Regions from separate parts of the Homo sapiens genome. Here regions 1, 2 and 4 are each reported to be linked to region 3. Evidence: microRNA targets listed by miRTarBase, many of them from high-throughput screens and not tested one by one. Region 3 holds a microRNA gene; each other region holds the end of a gene's coding sequence. Distances are from middle to middle.
Evidence for each region. Region 3 holds the annotated microRNA hsa-miR-7854-3p (UGAGGUGACCGCAGAUGGGAA, at 3,477-3,497, opposite strand). A microRNA usually pairs through its seed, bases 2 to 8, with sites in the 3' UTR of a target mRNA and lowers its output. Matches are read on the target gene's strand: a 7mer-m8 pairs with bases 2 to 8, a 7mer-A1 pairs with bases 2 to 7 and ends in A, and an 8mer does both.

Region 1 (4,701 bases), not on the chromosome of region 3:
AGGATCCATTCTCACTCTGCAAGTATGAAGTCCTTTACCTGGGGATCTGGAGTGCCTTCCCAGGGCCTGTGTGGTTGCCTTATACACATTAGACACAAAATTTAGGGTAGGGCTCACATTGACCAAACCTTTTCTGTTTAGGAAATGGAGTTTTCCCTGTGTATGAATGATTTCAATAGGCATTCAGTGAGACCTTTAAATCATGTTAAAGAGATACAATTGAGACTCAGGGTTGGGGAACACCCTGGAAACCCAACCCAGAATTGTAAAATATTCTTTTAAAAATTATTATTATGTAATAAACCAACATCAGTTCTTTCCAAAAGAATGGACCATAGTAGAATCTTAAACCAAATCAAAATAATAATAATAAAAATGAAGAAGAAAAGAAATAGCTCTGGAAGTTGATAGCATTATTCTTAAACCATAATTTAGGGAAAAGCTGTAGTTGGCCAAGCTTTCAAATTTCACTTTATACAATTAGAGAAGGAAAGACTACATTTACATTATACTTCAGTTCAATAACTAGCACTAAGAATGGAGGAATTGTTCTTTACAGTTTTTGATTGTTTGATATTCTTCAGTTCAAGACAGGAAATTGGAAATTCACGTCTCAGCCATATCTGTAGCCTGATTTGAGTTTTGTAGGATGCGTGCTGAAATCAGTCAAATACAAGGAACACTTCATTTCCCCAACTGCGTGTTATGATGGAAGGTTTGGGTCTGTTTGAGCTCTACCCTGAATCATGTCTCTAGCAGGAAACTACGTGGAAAGTTGGGAAGAATCAAGTTCATCTTAGTTAACAACCTGGGGAAAATGTCCTATTGAGAAAATTAAAGCCATACAATTCTAGAATTAGATCTTCACATCATTCTATCTTAAAGATGAGGAACTGAGGCTTAGATAACTCATAGTAACTTGATGAAGTCATGTTTGGTTAGTATTTTAGAGCTTAATGAGCTTTCAAGGTGCTGTTCTTTTTCTGTTCCCTTTCCTTTAGTCGCTTTGGTCTGTGGGTGATCTGTTCCGGGGCCACCATCTCTAAAATACTGAAATTCCTACAGTCCTCACTGAGGGAGGTGCAGAGGACAGGGAGCAACCATTTACCTCTCAATCCTGGGTATGCTTACCCAGTGACTTCTGTATAGCAGACACTCAATATATATTTTCTTTGTGAATAACTAGATTAGCAGAAAAAAACAACACCATAGGAAAGATTCTCTTTGAAGGACTCTTTGGAGATCATTTTTCACATCTGATAATCTGCCTCCAGTTTCATTGTTTTGTGAATCGGGTTTTTTTAGATACATTTTGTCCTTTATTCTCAATTTACACTGTACAGATCGTTGTTCTGTAGATTGATTGGAACATTATTGAAGCTAATTAAAAAATTTAGAGAATTTAGCATTCTGATCAAAAAATTATTTAGATCAGAGTATGTGCTTTAGTTGGTACCATTCCCAAAGAAATCCTCAATGGGATCCACAGCCCTTCCTCCCTCCCCTCCCACCTCATTAGTTAATTTGGATCCCTGTTTATTTCACATTGACTCGCCAAATTTTAACAGGAAACAAACAGCCCTAGGGTATGTTTTCTGGATGCTTGGGCAATTCTTAGTCTGCTTCTGGATTTTTCCTGTCCGTTCTCCTCTTCCACTTCTTTTAAACCCGTTCTCCGGAGACTTGTTTACTGGGGTTGGAGAATCAGAAGCTTGGCCGGGGTGGTGTGAACCTAGTGCCCTCTTGTGGAATTTTGTGAGAATGACAAACTCCCCCAAAGCTTGAGTGCTTTGAGTTTTTTCTTGAGTAGCCTTTAGTGGGAGGACCTTTCTGTTACATCTTAAATCTAGTAAGTTAATAACATGCAGGCTTATTGCCTACACTGAATATTTGAAAGCTATTATGTTGGGGGGTATCACTTGATTACCAGAGGCTTATTGTTATAGAATTAAGCCTCATTACAGGAAACAGGCAGCTAAGTGTTTGTGCTTTTTCATCACCTCCCATTAATGTGTAAGAGAGGTAAAGAGAAAAGGAAGGCTCCCAAAGAAAAGTAATTGAAAAAAGGCTAGGAACCAAGAGTAAAGGGGAAATGGCAAACTTTAGAAGCCTTGGTCAAAAACAAGTCTTATCCCCAGCTCTTGCTTTGGATCTGAGCCCAGAAATGTAAGACCCAGCCAGAAGTTGAGAGTCTGCCAGATTCTCACCCCCCGGGGGAGATGGGGGTCAGGGTAGGGGACAGAAAGTGTTGCATAAACCCACTCCTAAGGGAGGTCTAGGGTGTTTACACTGTGCTGTTTGCTTTACCTGGGCTTTCTGGCTTGTTTTCTTTTCTTTCTTTCTTTCTTTCTTTCTTTCTTTCTTTCTTTCTTTCTTTCTTTCTTTCTTTCCTTCCTTCTTTTCTTTTTTCTTTTTTTTTTAAGACATAGTCTCACTCTGTCACCCAGGCTAGGGTGCAGTAGTGCAATCTCAGCTCACTGCAACCTCCGCCTCCCAGGTTCAAGTGATTCTCCTGCCTTAGCCTCCCAAGTATCTGGGATTATAGGTGTGGGCCACCACACCTAGCTAATTTTTGTATATTTAGTAGAGACAGGGTTTCACCATGTTGACCAAGCTGGTCTCGAACTCCTGACCTCAAGGGATCCGCCCGCCTTGGCCTCGCAAAGTGCTGGGATTATAGGCGTGAGCCACAGTGCCCAGCCGTCTTTCTTCTTTCTTTCACAATTTCATTTTTTTCATTTTGAGATAACTTGTTTCTCCATTGCCATTAGCAAAGTCACTGTGGCCCAGAGGACACAGTCACACTTGCGTCAGACACACCTGCACTTAAATTCCTGTGTTGCCTCATACCAACTGTGAGACTTGGGCAAGTCAACCTGCTGGAGTCTCAGTTTTCTAGAGACTCCTTATAGAAACATTTGTGAGGATTAAAAACAATAACAGAGTCAACTTCAGAAACAAGTTACTGGATTTTATTATACCCCAAAACAAGGAAGAGAGTGGGTGCATTACTAAGGCAGTGACTCAGTGTTCAGGACTGTTGTTGTCACCCAGAGAGATTCACAAAACCTCCAACCTGTCCAGCAATACATTTAGAAGAAACAGGATTAGGGAAGACTCTGGAAGCAAAGAAGGCTTTATTAAACATAACCATGATCCATAGCTGGAGTATACATAGGAAATTTGGTAACTTGGATAAGGCAAAGTCTTTTCCCTTTAGGAGCCTGTACTTTAGTGGGTGAGGAAGAACCTTCTGAAAGAAAATGATTTCAGCAGCAGTATAAAAGAAAGTGGGTCACCTGTATGAGCAAACTAACAAAGCAGATTTAATGTAAGTGCCCAAGAGTTCCAAAACAAGGGAATCAGTAAGAGTTCTGGAGAAGGCCACCTTGGGGATACTTGGTGCGGTGTGGGGGTGGATGTAGGTTTATTCTGGGAATCGAATAACATGGTAAATATGTGACTGTAGGATGACTGGCTGTGATTTGCAAGGAAAAGAAATTTGCAAAGACCCAAGAATGGTATCTGCTAAATTGCATGTGCAAGGGTGGTCATGGTGAAAAGGAAAGTTTGGGCTAGAATAAGAGTAATAAAATGAGAAGTCAGGGAAGTACCAAGCATTTGAATGCTATAAAAATGCTATAGCAGTTGAATTCTATACAAATTTAAATTATGGAAATTTGAAATGTTATTAAGTATTTAAAAAGTCTCACTTTATATGTAAAGTTTGAAATGAAGCCAATTCTTGAAAGCTGCGGAGAGAGAAGGAGGCAAAGCGAGCATAATTTCAGCCTGTATGAATTAATTATAAATTCTATCATGCTATTTCCACATGGTGGCACCACTTTGGTGAGCACGTAAAGTACCCACTTTTCTTTATCAAGATGAGATTTGAATGGGTCCAGTTTTGAGTTGTGAGAAGTCTTTATTCCCTCAGGTAAAAGGCAATCCCTTGTGCCTGATGACGCTAATGACAGCATAACTGCTAGACTCTGTTCTCCTCCCTTCACAGCTCTTCCTTTTGTTGCATTCTCTTCCCCCAGTGGCTTTTCTTGCACACTAAGAAGAAGTGTTCTCCTCGTCCTTTTCCCTCCCTCCCGCAAATCCCATCAGCGTCTCTTTCTCAATCCCTCTCCCCTTATCTTCTCAGTAATTAGAGGCTCAGGGACAGAAAATGCACCAGCACGGGCATGGTGGCAGGCTCCTGTAATTGCAGCTACTCGGGAGGCTGAGGCAGGAGAATCGCTTGAACTCGGGAGGCGGAGGTTGCACTGAGCTGAGATTGTGCCATTGCACTCCAGGCTGGGCAACAGAGCGAGACTCTGTCTCAAAAAAAAAAAAAAAGAAAAGAGAAGAAAAGAAAATGAACCAGCAGACGGGACCAACTGCTAGCCTTCAAGGCCATTACCTTTACCAAGGAGGGTACCATGCTCGTGGCTGAGGAGCCAACAGGAGGAAGATGAGGTGGACGATGTGCCAGCCACTGTAGGCCCTGTCTCAGGGGGAGCTCTTTGGAAGGAGGAGAGCCTGGTCCTCTTTCTCTGACTGCTCCACTTCCTGTAGCAACTTGTAGAGGGGTCCTGGAGTGCTTGCATAATATGGAGCTTCTTTGGGCCCAGTCAGCTTCAAGCTGGGTCTGAAACAATGATACCAAAAGGAAGAGAAGCCATAGATTCCCAACAGGAATGAGGCATTGATCAT
Region 2 (4,707 bases), not on the chromosome of region 3:
GTAGAATTTGATTTGGATTCTATGCCACAAAACTGCCTAGCCCCACACTGAAGCACTCCGTGGGCACTGATAAATGTTTGGCCAACGCGTAAAACTAAATGTGCCCTTGGGCTGGGCGCAGGGCCTCTTTCTGCATGTTCGTCAACTGTATTAACATCCACCTTTCCTCTGGATGGCCCTGGGAGGAGGCCCGCCATGAAGGCCTTCCTAAGCCGCCGGGCAGCACAAAGGTGATTTCACATCTTCCCAGCTGTTTAGGCCTAAGATGTGGACATCGAGCCTTCAACGTGGGTATTTTTCTCCTGGAATCTTAGTTTCTTCATTTGCAAAAAGTAGACAGGAACTTCTCCCCTGCGGGGTTGCAATGGGAATTGGAGAAAATATATTTCAAGTGCCTTGCGCGATGCCCGGCACCGAGGCACTTGGCGGCACTCAATATCTGGTATTGTTTGGCTATTATTACTACTTCTTGGGCTGATCATGCTCCAATGCTTCTCTCTTAACCCCTTGCTTTTTTTTTCTTTCGGCCCTCAGGGCGGCTGAGCCCCCCAGCCTGCACCCTCCGCAAACACAAGACGAACCGTAAGCCGCGGACGCCCTTCACCACCGCGCAGCTGCTGGCGCTGGAGCGCAAGTTCCGCCAGAAGCAGTACCTGTCCATCGCCGAGCGCGCGGAGTTCTCCAGCTCGCTCAGCCTCACTGAGACGCAGGTGAAGATATGGTTCCAGAACCGCCGCGCCAAGGCAAAGAGACTACAAGAGGCAGAGCTGGAGAAGCTGAAGATGGCCGCCAAGCCCATGCTGCCACCGGCTGCCTTCGGCCTCTCCTTCCCTCTCGGCGGCCCCGCAGCTGTAGCGGCCGCGGCGGGTGCCTCGCTCTACGGTGCCTCTGGCCCCTTCCAGCGCGCCGCGCTGCCTGTGGCGCCCGTGGGACTCTACACGGCCCATGTGGGCTACAGCATGTACCACCTGACATAGAGGGTCCCAGGTCGCCCACCTGTGGGCCAGCCGATTCCTCCAGCCCTGGTGCTGTACCCCCGACGTGCTCCCCTGCTCGGCACCGCCAGCCGCCTTCCCTTTAACCCTCACACTGCTCCAGTTTCACCTCTTTGCTCCCTGAGTTCACTCTCCGAAGTCTGATCCCTGCCAAAAAGTGGCTGGAAGAGTCCCTTAGTACTCTTCTAGCATTTAGATCTACACTCTCGAGTTAAAGATGGGGAAACTGAGGGCAGAGAGGTTAACAGATTTATCTAAGGTCCCCAGCAGAATTGACAGTTGAACAGAGCTAGAGGCCATGTCTCCTGCATAGCTTTTCCCTGTCCTGACACCAGGCAAGAAAAGCGCAGAGAAATCGGTGTCTGACGATTTTGGAAATGAGAACAATCTCAAAAAAAAAAAAAAAAAAAAAAAAAAAAAAAAAAAAGAAAAGAGAAAAAAAAGACTAGCCAGCCAGGAAGATGAATCCTAGCTTCTTCCATTGGAAAATTTAAGACAAGTTCAACAACAAAACATTTGCTCTGGGGGGCAGGGAAAACACAGATGTGTTGCAAAGGTAGGTTGAAGGGACCTCTCTCTTACCAGTACCAGAAACACAATTGTAAAATTAAAAAAAAAAAAAAACTCTTTCTATTTAACAGTACATTTGTGTGGCTCTCAAACATCCCTTTGGAAGGGATTGTGTGTACTATGTAATATACTGTATATTTGAAATTTTATTATCATTTATATTATAGCTATATTTGTTAAATAAATTAATTTTAAGCTACAAAAATTATCTCTTTACTGATTGAGTCTTTTATTTTAATTTTGCTTCTTGCTATCTCTTTATGTGTACAGTTGCTTTTCAGTTTGACGGTACTTTTACGACAGCAACTTTGAAAGGTGATAACAGGGTATGCAGGGATAGAGGGGGGTGTCTTTTTGAACACCCACGACAGATCTGCATTAGGAAAGTCAAGTGGAGAGTTGAAGTAATTACCTAGGATAATTAGGCTCAATTTTCCAATTCACTTTAAGCTGAAATCGACACTTACTCGGGCAACCTATAACCAACTCTTGCTTTCTTTCTCTCCTTTTAACCTGTCTATGAAAACAAAGCAAATCGCCCAAATGGTTTGATGAGTGTGGACAGCTAATCCAGACAATTCCCACCTCCGCAAATCTGTTTTTCCCACGGGAGGCCAGGTGGGGGATGGAAGCGATTGCGTTGCCTCTCTAAATTACCCCCACTGTAGACGCGGTTTGTGGAACTAATTTTGAGCTGCCAGAATATAAGAACCTTCTCACCCCCTATTCTGGCCGCTAAAAACACAACACAACCTAACAAAGTTTACAGAAAACCCAGGGCCACCTTCCACTCTCGCCTGGAAAGTCCTCTGCAGGAGCCCTGTTTCCAAACCCTCACAAACTCGGTTTTTCTTAAGATCAGTCTTCCAGGAGAATATATTTGCACACGCGCCAAGTTTAGCTTTCCGGGGAATTCTGCAAGGACGCCGAATGCAGAAAATTACCCCCTGATTAAATAAAGCCTATTAAGCTCCAGGCACCGCTCTGTTGTCTTTCGTGTTCGGGCGGCGGCAGACCTGCGCATCCCTCTCCTCCTTCAGCCTCTGTCCCGCGGTGACCCGCTCCTCCAAATTCCACGCAGGATAGCGCCGGACAGTCTGCAGTAAGCCGTTAAGCCGGAGGTCAGTAGACTAAAGATGGTTCGAAACCTGGGTACCTGGCGTTGGACTTGAACAGGGGTGAACAGCTTCACAGATAGAGACGTTAAAAACAGAGCCCCAAGGGCAGCGCGCGGTTTCTAGCCCCAGGACCCTTAGGTCGGTCTAGGAATTCCCAGCGAGCCCAGGGTTGCGGGAACGCGCCCTGGGCAGGTTCTGCACGGGCGCCGGGCACATTCCGGGGCGTCCTGGGCTTCGGATCCTCCAGCCTCTGCAGCTCGGGCAAAGGTTCTGTCTTCCCTGGCTGGAGCTGCAGTATGAACTTGTTACAACCCCGCTCCTTAAGAAGAAAAGCTTGCTGTGGAGGGCAGTTTCGCTCCTGGGGAGCCCCGGAGCTGTTGCCCTCGGCCTGGGAACTTCTAGAAAAGCACCAGAGCCCGGGTCTGGGCCTTTTCGCCCCCCAAAGGGGAGCTATGCATAACAAGGTCTCAGACTCCCACACCACGCAGCTCTCTAAAGGTGCTTTAGGGCTGAAGTGCCTCGCCGCGTTTTTTTTCTTTTTTCTTTCCTCTATAAATTAAGTAACCCTCGAATGACGGCGCGCAGGACGCCCGGCTCTGGCAAATCTGGGTTCTTTTCTGGAACACGCTAGAGACGTCCTCGTCGTGGGGTTAGTATTGAACTTGGAGTCAGAGAGCCAATGTGGTTCAGTGTGGATCAAGCCCGCCACTTACTATAAAAGATCATATCATCTCTCTGCACCGCCTTTTTCTCGTCTGTGAAATGGGCCTTGGACTCTTCCCCCTACACCCCAGGATTTGGGGGAAGTGTCGACAAGCCCCCGCGCGGGAGGGCACCCAGGGAATACCGGGTGCATCTGACTTTTCTTGGCTTACTGCGCGCCCGCAGCACTGAAGTTTTTTTCCGCGCGTTCGTGATAGGGAAATGGCAGGGCAGGATCGGGTGTCTCCCCCGGCCCCGGCTCCAGGACCTCCTGGCTCCTTGGAGTTTGGCAATTTAGGGTAGAGGCAAATTTAGAGCAACATAATTGCGGTAATGAGCAACGGCTCACCCTCTGCAGACGCGTCGCGGCTCCAGCGAGGCGGTAGCTGCAGGCGAGGCGGGCGCGCCTCCCCGCCCCCTCCCTGCGCCGCAGCCCGGGTGCGAGGGCCCGGCCTCCCTGGGACCCCGGCCCGCGCGCGCCTCCGCCTCTGGCTGCTGGCCTTGGCTAGGGGCTTCCTTCCACTTCTGGGCCTCCGAATCTCCCCATTTTTGTTTCTGTCCGTCTAGCCCATTCTTTGCCCCCCTTTTGTTTCCGCATTCCCTCTCTGAACAGGGTGTGCACACAGAAGGTGCTCGATAATTGTTTGCTAGATCGGAGCGGCACGCTGGTGTGGGGAGAACACCCAGAGCCACAGTCAGCCGGGTCCGGCCGGAAATCGCGGCTGCGCTTCCGGCACTGCTTCTCGTCCATCCCAGTCCTTCGAACTGTGTTCCCTGGTTTATCAACCGAGGGCGGAGTGGGCAGGGGTTTCCTGGGTCTGTTCCTTTACGGACCAATTTCCTTCTCTGGCAAGAAACATGGGATCTACCAGGCGGAGAGGTCGGCCACCTTCCGCGCTGGGAGGTAGTGATGGAGCAGTCTGCACTCACAGCCTACTGTGTGCCGGGAGTTCCCGCTCACGCTGACTCCCAACACACCTAGGAGATTTTTATAGCGCAAAGGACTGCAGCTCAGAGAGGTGACATGGTTTTCCCAAGGTTACACAGTTAATGAAGGACATAGCAGGAATTCCAACACGGATTCCACTCGAGGATCCGGTTTTTCCCGCATTGCCCATCTCCATCTGGTTGAGGGTCACCTGGTGCCTGAGCAGCTCTCCTGCGAAGTGCGCGTCGCGCTGGAAAACGGAGCGCAGAATCCGGGAACTAGTTCTGAATTTAACTCCTTGCGCTCTAACCACGAACAGGCACTGTCCCTTGAGGAATGATAGGGGCGTCTCACCGGCCCTGCACGCTGTGAAAGCGTTTTCGTTTTGTTGGGG
Region 3 (4,707 bases):
CTCAGCCTCCCAAGTGGCTGCAACTACAGGTGCGTGCCACCATGCCTGGCTAATTTTTGTATTTTTAGTAGAGACAGGGTTTTACCATGTTGGCCAGCCTGGTCTTGAACTCCTGGCCTCAAGTGATCCGCCCACCTCGGCCTCCCAAAGTGCCGGCATTACAGGTGTGAGCCACCGCCCCCAGCCTATATGGGGCGTTTCTATCCAACTTTATTTCTCAGGATGCCCCGACACTCCAGGCCAAGGCAGGCTCACACGTGAACATTGTGACGGCCAGGACGGTGAGCAGGGGGGACCCTGCTCTGAGTCTGTAGCCCAGTTCTGCCATGACTGGTCCTGAAGTTTCCAGCAACTTACTCTTAAAGTCACACTAATATGTCATGGGAAAAATGCCAGACAAAATCATACATGCCAAACAACTGCACAGATGTGGAGTTCACAAGCGGGCAAAACCATTAGACACTGATACAAGCCAGGAGAGCAGTTACCCCTGGGGAGAGCAACGGCTGGCGGGAGGTGCAGGGCAGGGGGTGGGGTACTGCTCAGTATGTTGTCTCTTGATTTGGGCGCTGGTTACACGTGCGTGCTGAGTTGGCAAAAATTCACTGAGCTGTACGTGTGCATGCTTCCGGATGTATGTGACGCACGTATGTTTCTATAACAACATTTTACTGGAAAAAAAAAAGACAAGCAGTGCCTCAGTTTCCTCATCTGAAAAATGAGAGGTATTAACACCTACCACAAAGGCTGGTGCTGTTGTCCCTCGGCCTCCTGCTCTAAATAAGTTCTACCCACTTCATCAAAGGTCATGAACCAGGTGTCCACCTGAGGTAGCCAACCCTAATTCTGCATTTATAGAAAGAAGGTTCCGGAGACGGGTTGTGCTACAATGTGAATATACTTAACACTATTGATCTGCACACTTAAAAATGGTTAGGACAGGGCATTATGTTCTGTGTATCTTATCACCATTTTTTTAAAAAGATGAACTATAAGAGAATATTCTTATCCTGACGATCAATTTATAATGCCCCCGAGTTAATGACAGGTGAGAGAGGTACCGAATAGCAAGCACACAGGCCACACTGGGTCCATCCAGGGCACACCCTCCCTGCATGGCGCAAGGTAAGATGAAGACTTCCAATTGCCACAGCAAGGCAAGGAGCACTCCCAAGTACCTTTGGTCATCCTCACAACAAGTTCCAGGTCACCCTCAGCAAGCTGGAAGCCTTCACACCAAACAAGCCTCTCCTCGTGAAATTTTAATAATTAACACTTACCTGATTTCAAAGGTTTTACAGGGAAATTAATCTTCATACTGGCTGGTTATGGCTGCTCTGCAAAGCCAGGGGTCGGGGGATGCTTCGGGTCCCTGCTTATGAGTTTACACTGCAAACAGGGATCACATCAGCCCACAGCACACAGCAGACAAGAGGTCCCTTGTCACCGAGGTTCCCTGGGCCCTCAGGTGACACGACTCTCTCTGGGAGGAGATCCAAGATGCTCTCGCCTTGAAGTCAGCGTGGACAATTTTCTCAAAAACCTGGAACATGTAAACTGACCTGGAGTCCTAGGAGCTTGTGGGAATGCTCAAGTGCAAAACTTTCTATCACTGTAACAGCTTGTCAGCCAGTTCAGAGTCTGGGGTGACCTCGGTAATTTATGGTGGGAGGGGAAGGTGGGTAACAGGGTCCAACATCTGTAAACGAGTGTCTGAACACTCAAGGGCAACTGATCACCAAACTGACTGATGCTTCAAATGAGGACGTACCTTACAAAAAGTCAACATCAATGGAAATAATAATAATTGTATTATTACTAATAGATTAAGGGCTTTTTCTATGCCAGGCACAGTACTACAAAATTCACGTGTCTGATCTCATTCTTGCTAGTAGCTTCATGCAGCTTTTTCTGACTAGCTCCACTTAGAGAAAGAACGTACAACAGCTGTTTAAAAAAAAAAAAAAAAAAAGCATTCCAGTGCTATACCATGAGCAGAAGTGACAGGAAAGAAGCACAGGGAAGCATCATGAGACACAGCCCACGAGAAGGTTAAATACACTGGAATTTTATGCATGTGAGATTCTCAGACAGCATTTGGCTGTGTGACCTTGGGCAGGTTGCTTGACCTCTCTGGTGCCTCAGTTCCTTCATCTTTAAAAGGAGAGGGCTCAATTTTAAAAAAATTATGGGCCACGTGGTGGCTCACACCTGTAATGCCAGCACTTTGGGAGGTTGAGGCAGGCAGATCACTAGGTCAGGAGATCGAGACCATCCTGGCTAACACAGTGAAACCCCGTCTCTACTAAAAGTACAAAAAATTAGCTGGGCATGGTGGCAGGTGCCTGGAGTCCCAGCTACTCAGGAGGCTGAGGCAGGAGAATGGCATGAACCCGGGAGGCAGAGCTTAGAGTGAGCCGAGATCACGCCTCTGCACTCCAGCCTGGGAGACAGAGCAAGACTCCGTCTCAAAAAACAAACAAACAAAACACTATGAAGCTGGAATAAAACAGCACAGTGGCAGAGCAAGGACAGTATATCAGTGGTAACTAACAGAAAGCCTAAAAGGAAACTTAGCACATATTTGAAAAATTTAGTATCTGATAATAGCAATATTTTAAAGCAATGGGAAAAGGGCACACTATTGAGTGAATGATAACAGACAATCCATTAACTATTTGGAGGGAAGGAATAGCATTATTCCCTGCCTCACACCTTATACCAAAAATTTATCCTGGGTGTAGGTGCTTAGTTCTAGGTTAATTTTACAGTTCTATAGTTTTGTTTTTTTTTTTATGGGGAATGTTTGCTCAATCTTAAAATTTGGAAGAACTCTCTAAGCCACGAAGACACTAATTAAGAAGTCACTAATTAAGACACTCAACTCTGACCACAGAAAAATATATAACTTCTATATATCAATAAATACCTCAAACAAAATCAAGAGACTAGAAAAACAAAAAAAGTTGGAGAGTAATAACTGCTACATAAATGATTTGAAAAAGGATGAACAGTTTTCTATATTTCAAAAGAAACCCTTACAATCTTTTTTTAAAGACACATGCCATAATTGAAAATAAAACACACAAAGAATATAAACAACTTGCGGAGCAAATGCAAACAGTCAACAAACCCATAAAATGAGGGCAGTGAATGAGGTTTAATGGAACAAATCCTGACTGAGGGCCACTGGGCAACATTCACAATTTTAAAGAGCTCAGAGTCCACTGCTATTGGGTATGTGTGGCCTTGCTGTGTGGTCAAAAGGGTGCATTCCTGAAAGTCCTGGCTTTGAAACGCAGCCTGGCCACAGGCTGCCCGGGTGCAGGAACCAGTGTGGCCCAGCTCCAGCGTGGAGATGCTCTGACCCACAGGCAGCCGTGGTAGCCGTGAGCAGTAGCTCTCACGGGGCCCTCTCCTGCCCTGCCTGGAACCAGATGGTGGAGAGAAGAAAATGCTCATCTCTGCGCCCTTCCTTCCCATCTGCGGTCACCTCAGCTGCCCAGAAGATGCTCAAGGTGATGGAGATGGAAGGAAAGGGCAGGAGAGGTTCACTGCCTCCTTCTGACTAGTGTTCCCTGCGGCCCTGCATGGACTCCACCCCGGTCATGCTCTCAGATCTGCTAGTGCAGCCCTCTGATTGTAAAAATAAAGCACATAGGCCAGGCGCGGTGGCTCATGCCTGTAATCCCAGCACTTAGGGAGGCAGAGGCAGGTGGACTGCCTGAGCTCAGGAGTTTGTGACCAGCCTGGGCAACACGGTGAAACCCTGTCTCTACTAAAATACAAAAAATTAGCTGGGCATGGCGGCACGTGCATATAGTCCCAGCTACTCTGGAGGCTGAGACAGGAGAACTGCTTGAACCCGGGAGACGGAGGCTGCAGTGAGCCAAGATCACACCACTGAATGCCAGCCTGGGTGACAAAAAGAGACTCCGTCTCAAAAAAATAAAAATAAAAATAAAAACAATAAAGCACATAATGACAATAATATAAAAAATCATGCACATAACCTTAGCTACCATGTACTGAGTGGCTACCATGTACTTAACAGGCAAACTTTATTCCAATGGACAAAGTGAGTGCTGCAAAGTTTGACTGACTGATGATTCATTCATTCGTTCACTCACTCAAAACTATGTACTGAGCATCTAGCAGGTGCCAGGCCCTGTTCTAAATGCTGGGGATACAGTCATGGGGAAAAAACAGGCAAACCCCTGCCTTTCTAGTGGGATGGAATAATAAACAAAATAAGTAAGAAACGCGTGGTCTGTCAGATGATAACATATGCTCAGGAGAAAAAAACGTAAGTCAGGGAACGAGAAATAAAAAATTGTGGGAGTGGGTGCCAACTTTTTGGATGGATGGAATGATCAAGGACAGCCCAAGGAGGTGACTTCTGACAGGAGACAGGAGGGAAGCGAGGGAGCGTGTGGTGTGGGTGTTTAGACAACAGGCATCCCAGGCAGAGGAAGCAGTCAGGGCAAAGGCCTCGAGGCACAGCAGGCTTGGCGTGTCCAAGGAGGCAGCCCAGATCACACCATCAGTAAGGGAGGGAGGCTTTCACTTGCCATGCTGTCTGGGCAGAGAGGCGCAGGAGGCAACACGGTGTGTCCAAGGTCACACAGTTAATCATTGAGAGATCAGCCAAGCATGGCACACTGGAGTCAGGGCACAGAGCTGCATCCCAGGGAGTCACACCCCTCC
Region 4 (4,699 bases), 12 Mb from region 3:
CCCCGGTGGGGGCTCATGCTCTTAACCACCAGGCAGGACAGTGTTTCTCATTCTCAAGCTGTCAGTCTCTGAGTTCTGACACTGCCTAACCATTTTTCAGTCCTAATCTTTTTTTTTTTTTTTTTTTTTTGCTTCCTTGAGATGGTATCACTCTGTCTTCCAGGCTGGAGTGCAGTGGCACAAACATAGCTCACTGCAGCCTCACCCCCTTGGGCTCAAACGATCCTCCCACCTCAGCCTCCCAAGTAGCTGGACCCACAGGAGTGCACCACCACACCTGGCTGATTTTTGTATTGTTTGTAGAGATGAGGTTTTGCCATGTTGCCTAGGCTGGTCTCAAACTCCTGGGCTCAAGTGATCCCCATGCTTTGGCCTCCTGAAGTGCTAGGATTACAGGTGTGAGCCACCGTGCCTAGCCTTAGTCATAATCTTAAAAAACAAAAAACAAAACAGCATTAACACCTTCCAGCAATTATTTGCATTGACTCAAAGTGTCACAAGCTAAGTAGGCAGAAAACAGACTCTATACATGGGGTTCAGTTCTAGCAAAGGCCAAATGACAGCACAGCACTCTGGGAGCACAGTGGCTCTATGGCAGTCTTGCTCAAGTGACAGAAGAGTCTGGGAACTTCTATCAGCACACGTGGCACAGGCATCCCCCACCCGAGTCCCACCACCGTCGCAGTCCTAGCACTGGTCATGCCATAAGCAGTGACTTGGTTTCGGCGAAACAATCGTCAGTTCATAGTAAGTTTTATAGTTCTACAGAAGCTGTAAGCATAGTTTTATCTTTGCACACATTTCAATAACTATAATAAAAACAACACTGAATTATGTGAAAAAATATTAATGAACATAGGCATTCTCAAGTTTAAGAAACACTGATGCCGGGTGTGGTGGCTCACGCCTGTAATCCCAGCACTTTGGGAGGCTGAGGTGGGCGGATCACGAGGTCAGGAGATCGAGACCATCCTGGCTAACACGGTGAAACCCCATCTCTACGAAAAATACAAAAAATTAGCCAGGTGTGGTGGCGGGTGCCTGTAGTCCCAGCTACTCAGGAGGCTGAGGCAGGAGAATGGTGTGAACCCAGAGGCAGAGCTTGCAGTGAGCTGAGATAGCACCACTGCACTCCAGCCTGGGTGACAGAGTGAGACTCCATTTCATAAATAAATAAATAAATAAATAAATAAATAAATAAATAAATAAAAAGAAACACTGATTAGGATATTTTGTTTCCCTAAATGCATCAGTTTCACTCCTCTACCTGGAGAGCACCATTGACTCACATGAGAGTTAAGGGGAGAAAAGCTTCTGGATTCTAATCCGGTTCAGAGGGAGACCAAACCAGCTGCAGGCAGAAGGCGGCTAGCCTGAAAGGAGCTCAAGTTCTCAACTTCTCCCTGTGGTTTCAGTTGGGGTTGGTTGATAGAAGAACAATAGGTACTAAACCCCAAAATGCAGTTAATAGGTAATAAAGCTGTATGAAGTTTCCAACTTGTAACTAATGGATGAATTTTTTTTTTTTTTGAGATGGAGTCTCACTCTATCACCCAGGCTGGAGTGCAGTGGTGCGATCTCGGTTTATTGCAACCGCCACCTCCCCGGTTCAAGCGATTCTCCTGCCTCAGCCTTCCGAGTAGCTGGGACTACAGGCGCCTGCCACCATGCCTGGCTAATTTTGTATTTTTCAAAATTTTTAATTTTAAACTTTTTTTTTTTTTTTTTGAGAAGGAGTTTTGCTCTTTTTGCCCAGGCTGGAGTGCAATGGCACCATCTCCGCTCATCACAACCTCCGCCTCCCAAGTTCAAGCAATTCTCCTGCCTCAGCCTCCCGAGAGGTCGGGATTACAGGCGCCTGCCACCATGGCTGGCTAAGTTTTTGTATTTTTAGTAGAGATGGGGTTTCACCATGTTGGCCAGGCTGGTCTTGAACTCCTGACCTCAGGTGATCCTACCCTTCTTGGCCTCGCAAAGTGCTGGGATTACAGGGGTGAGCCATGGCTCCCAGCCAGTTTTGTTTTGTTTTGAGATAGAGTCTCGCTTTGTTGCCCAGGCTGGAGTGCAGTGGCATGATCTTGGCTCGTTGCAACCTCCATCTCCCGAGTTCAAGCGATTCTTGTGCCTCAGCCTCCTGAATAGCTGGGATTACAGGCACCCGCCACCACGCCCAGCTAATTTTTGTATTTTTAGTACATAGGGTTTTACTATGTTGGCCGCGCTGGTCTCGAACTCCTGACCTCAAGTGATCCTCCTGCCTCGGCCTCCCAGAGTGCTGGGATTACAGGCATTAGCCACCATGCCTGGCCTAATGGATGAATTTTAAAACTTTAGCATTTCTTTAAGCCTTGCCTTTCACTCACTCAGAAGTGAGAAAGGGGGAATTCTTTTGTCCCCAGAAATGATATATGAGGAAACTGAAAGGTTAAGAGGAAACTTCCATATCATCTGTTTGACATAGCTTCCAAGGATTAAAACATTCAATAAAGTCTGACATCAGCTTCTTGATCAAAATAGTTCAGCAAAGTTTAACATTTTGCTACCTCCCTCTGTGGATACATGCTGTGCTGCAATTAAACAGCTACTTACAGTTGAGAGAAGCAAGACTTTAATGAAGAATGCTACAAGTATGGACAATAATTAGTTCTCACCTTTTAAAAAAAGATTACAGAAAACACTTTACTGAAATTTTTTGCTAAAAAGACAGTCTTTAAGGGTGTCCGGGAGAGACAGCAAGCACAACACAGTACAAAAGGAGAAGGGAATGTTGAATTCCAGTGCAAGACACGAACACAGCACAATTAGGGAATCAGGAGGAAGCAACCATTTCACAAAGAATGAAATTAGGCATTTATATTCAATCGGATTTTTTTTAAGCTTTAAAAGTCCAGCATAAGGAAGGGAATTGGGAAAAGAGGCAGGGGACAGGGGGCAGGGGATCAGGGAACTAATCTTATCTACAATCACCATTTTACCAAAAAACACACTGGTTCAACCACATGAGAAGTGGAGGATTAACCTGCCTACATAGCCCAGCAGATGTTGACAGCAAATGCCAAGGCAGACAGGTCTAGGGTTGATGTCACGACTGGCTAAAGAGTTTTTAAAGGGAATCTTATTCCACAAGGACTGGTCTGTCATCAACCTGGGTTCATAACAGACTAAGTTCCTTTGCATTTGCATCAGAAGGCCAGAACTTGACGTGGAACAAATTTACTCCAAATAATACTCACATTGCTGGTTTTAACAGGTCATGGAGTCACAAGTGGCTCCTAATAGACTTCACCATTTCCTAGGAGAAGGTTCTACAGATTACCAGGGATTTAAATTTAAGCAAACCACTAAAGAAGGGAAACGCTAATGATATTCTGGCACTGCACAAGCTGTGTGCCTGTCATCTCTGCCAAGGACATGGGTGGACTTGGCTCTGCTTCTTAGCTCCATGATCTCCAACAGTGATGAAGTGGAAATGGGACCTCCCCCACGTCGAAGGAGGTTGCCCAAAATTCTCATCCCAGCCCAGCTTCTGAAAGAAACAGCAGATGCCAGGCGCGGTGGCTCATGCCTGTAATCCCAGCACTTTGGGAGGCCGAGTTGGGTGGATCACGAGGTCAGGAGATCGAGACCATCCTGGCTAACACGGTGAAACCCCGTCTCTACTAAAAATACAAAACATTAGCCGGGCGTGATGGCGGGCGCCTGTAGTCCCAGCTACTCGGGAGGCTGAGGCAGGAGAATGGCGTGAGCCCGGGAGACGGAGGTCGCAGTGAGCCGAGATCACGCCACTGCACTCCAGCCTGGGTGACAGAGCGAGACTCTGTCTCAAAAAAAAAAAAAAAAGAAAAAGAAAGAAAGAGCAGACTATCAGGGGCTATTATTAGGAACCATGCTCCTGTGAATTCTGTGGAAATGAAAGCCTGTTTCAGTTCATGCCAAGTCTTTTCATGGTCCGCCAGCGATCCTTAATCATCACAGCTGTTCGGTTAACAAATGGGTAATTTTTAGAAATGGCAGCCCAGTTTCCTTCCCCATATTTCTGCACTCCAGCCTTGACCCACTCGCTTTCTTCTACAGTCCACTTCTGCAAAAGAAAACCAAAAGATTTATTACCACCTTTCCTCTCCACTTACTTACATTTTCTCCAATGTAGTGATAAGGTAAACTCAAGAATCCCAGGAGAATCATCTGAACCTGAAATCACAGCTTATGTTTTTAAACATGGAATGGACAAGATATGAGCACTGTGGATCTGGACACAGGAATTCTTGATGTCCTGCCATTTGATCCTCAAGTAACAATCACTTCTGCATTCCAAACTGCAAACATATCTACATCATTCATGTTCCGGAAAATGTGTCATCTGTTTTCCTAGTCTTTTCTTCCAGAAGATAATTATTACTTTAACTTAGTTTGGATTATCTGAAAATCTCAAAAAAAGGTTTTTACTGGGTACATAACCAGTCTATACCTGTGAGACAGGGCGCGTATTTTACCTCTGCTCTACCCACATAACCAGTAACAGAAAAGAGAATTTTAAATTACCTGCTTTTTTGTTATATTGGTTGTACTGTCTTCATCTGGTGCTGCTGGAAAACATTAAAAGTAGACTCATTTCAGAGTTCACCTTTCTCTGCACAAACCACAAGAAAAAGACATGGAATGTCCCCAAAGGGAAAACTTCTTCAAATTTCACAAGCAT

Region 1: the mRNA of TEDDM1 is a reported target of hsa-miR-7854-3p. Seed matches in the 3' UTR shown: 7mer-A1 at 4,461-4,467.
Region 2: miRTarBase lists MSX1 as a target of hsa-miR-7854-3p. Seed matches in the 3' UTR shown: 7mer-m8 at 1,101-1,107.
Region 4: the mRNA of TERF2 is a reported target of hsa-miR-7854-3p. The part of its 3' UTR that is shown has no 7-base or 8-base seed match.

Annotation. Positions count from the first base shown.
Region 1 is chr1:182,395,167-182,399,867 of GRCh38, forward strand. It overlaps TEDDM1 (transmembrane epididymal protein 1), which reads right to left. Exons shown (of 1, transcript NM_172000.4): 1 at 2,951-4,701. The coding sequence ends at 4,498. Among named protein-coding and RNA genes, the nearest start is that of TEDDM1, 3.2 kb to the right of the region's middle.
Region 2 is chr4:4,862,167-4,866,873 of GRCh38, forward strand. MSX1 (msh homeobox 1) reads left to right here. Exons shown (of 2, transcript NM_002448.3): 2 at 535-1,770. The coding sequence ends at 977. Among named protein-coding and RNA genes, the nearest start is that of MSX1, 4.9 kb to the left of the region's middle. RefSeq lists enhancers at 144-815, 2,333-3,250.
Region 3 is chr16:81,532,732-81,537,438 of GRCh38, reverse strand. It overlaps MIR7854 (microRNA 7854), which reads right to left and starts at 3,537; the gene lies at 3,473-3,537. The region is part of intron 1 of CMIP (c-Maf inducing protein); the gene reads right to left. RefSeq lists enhancers at 4,158-4,657, 4,658-4,707.
Region 4 is chr16:69,352,976-69,357,674 of GRCh38, forward strand. It overlaps TERF2 (telomeric repeat binding factor 2), which reads right to left. Exons shown (of 10, transcript NM_005652.5): 9 at 4,543-4,586; 10 at 2,592-4,081. The coding sequence ends at 3,923. Among named protein-coding and RNA genes, the nearest start is that of TMED6, 3.5 kb to the left of the region's middle.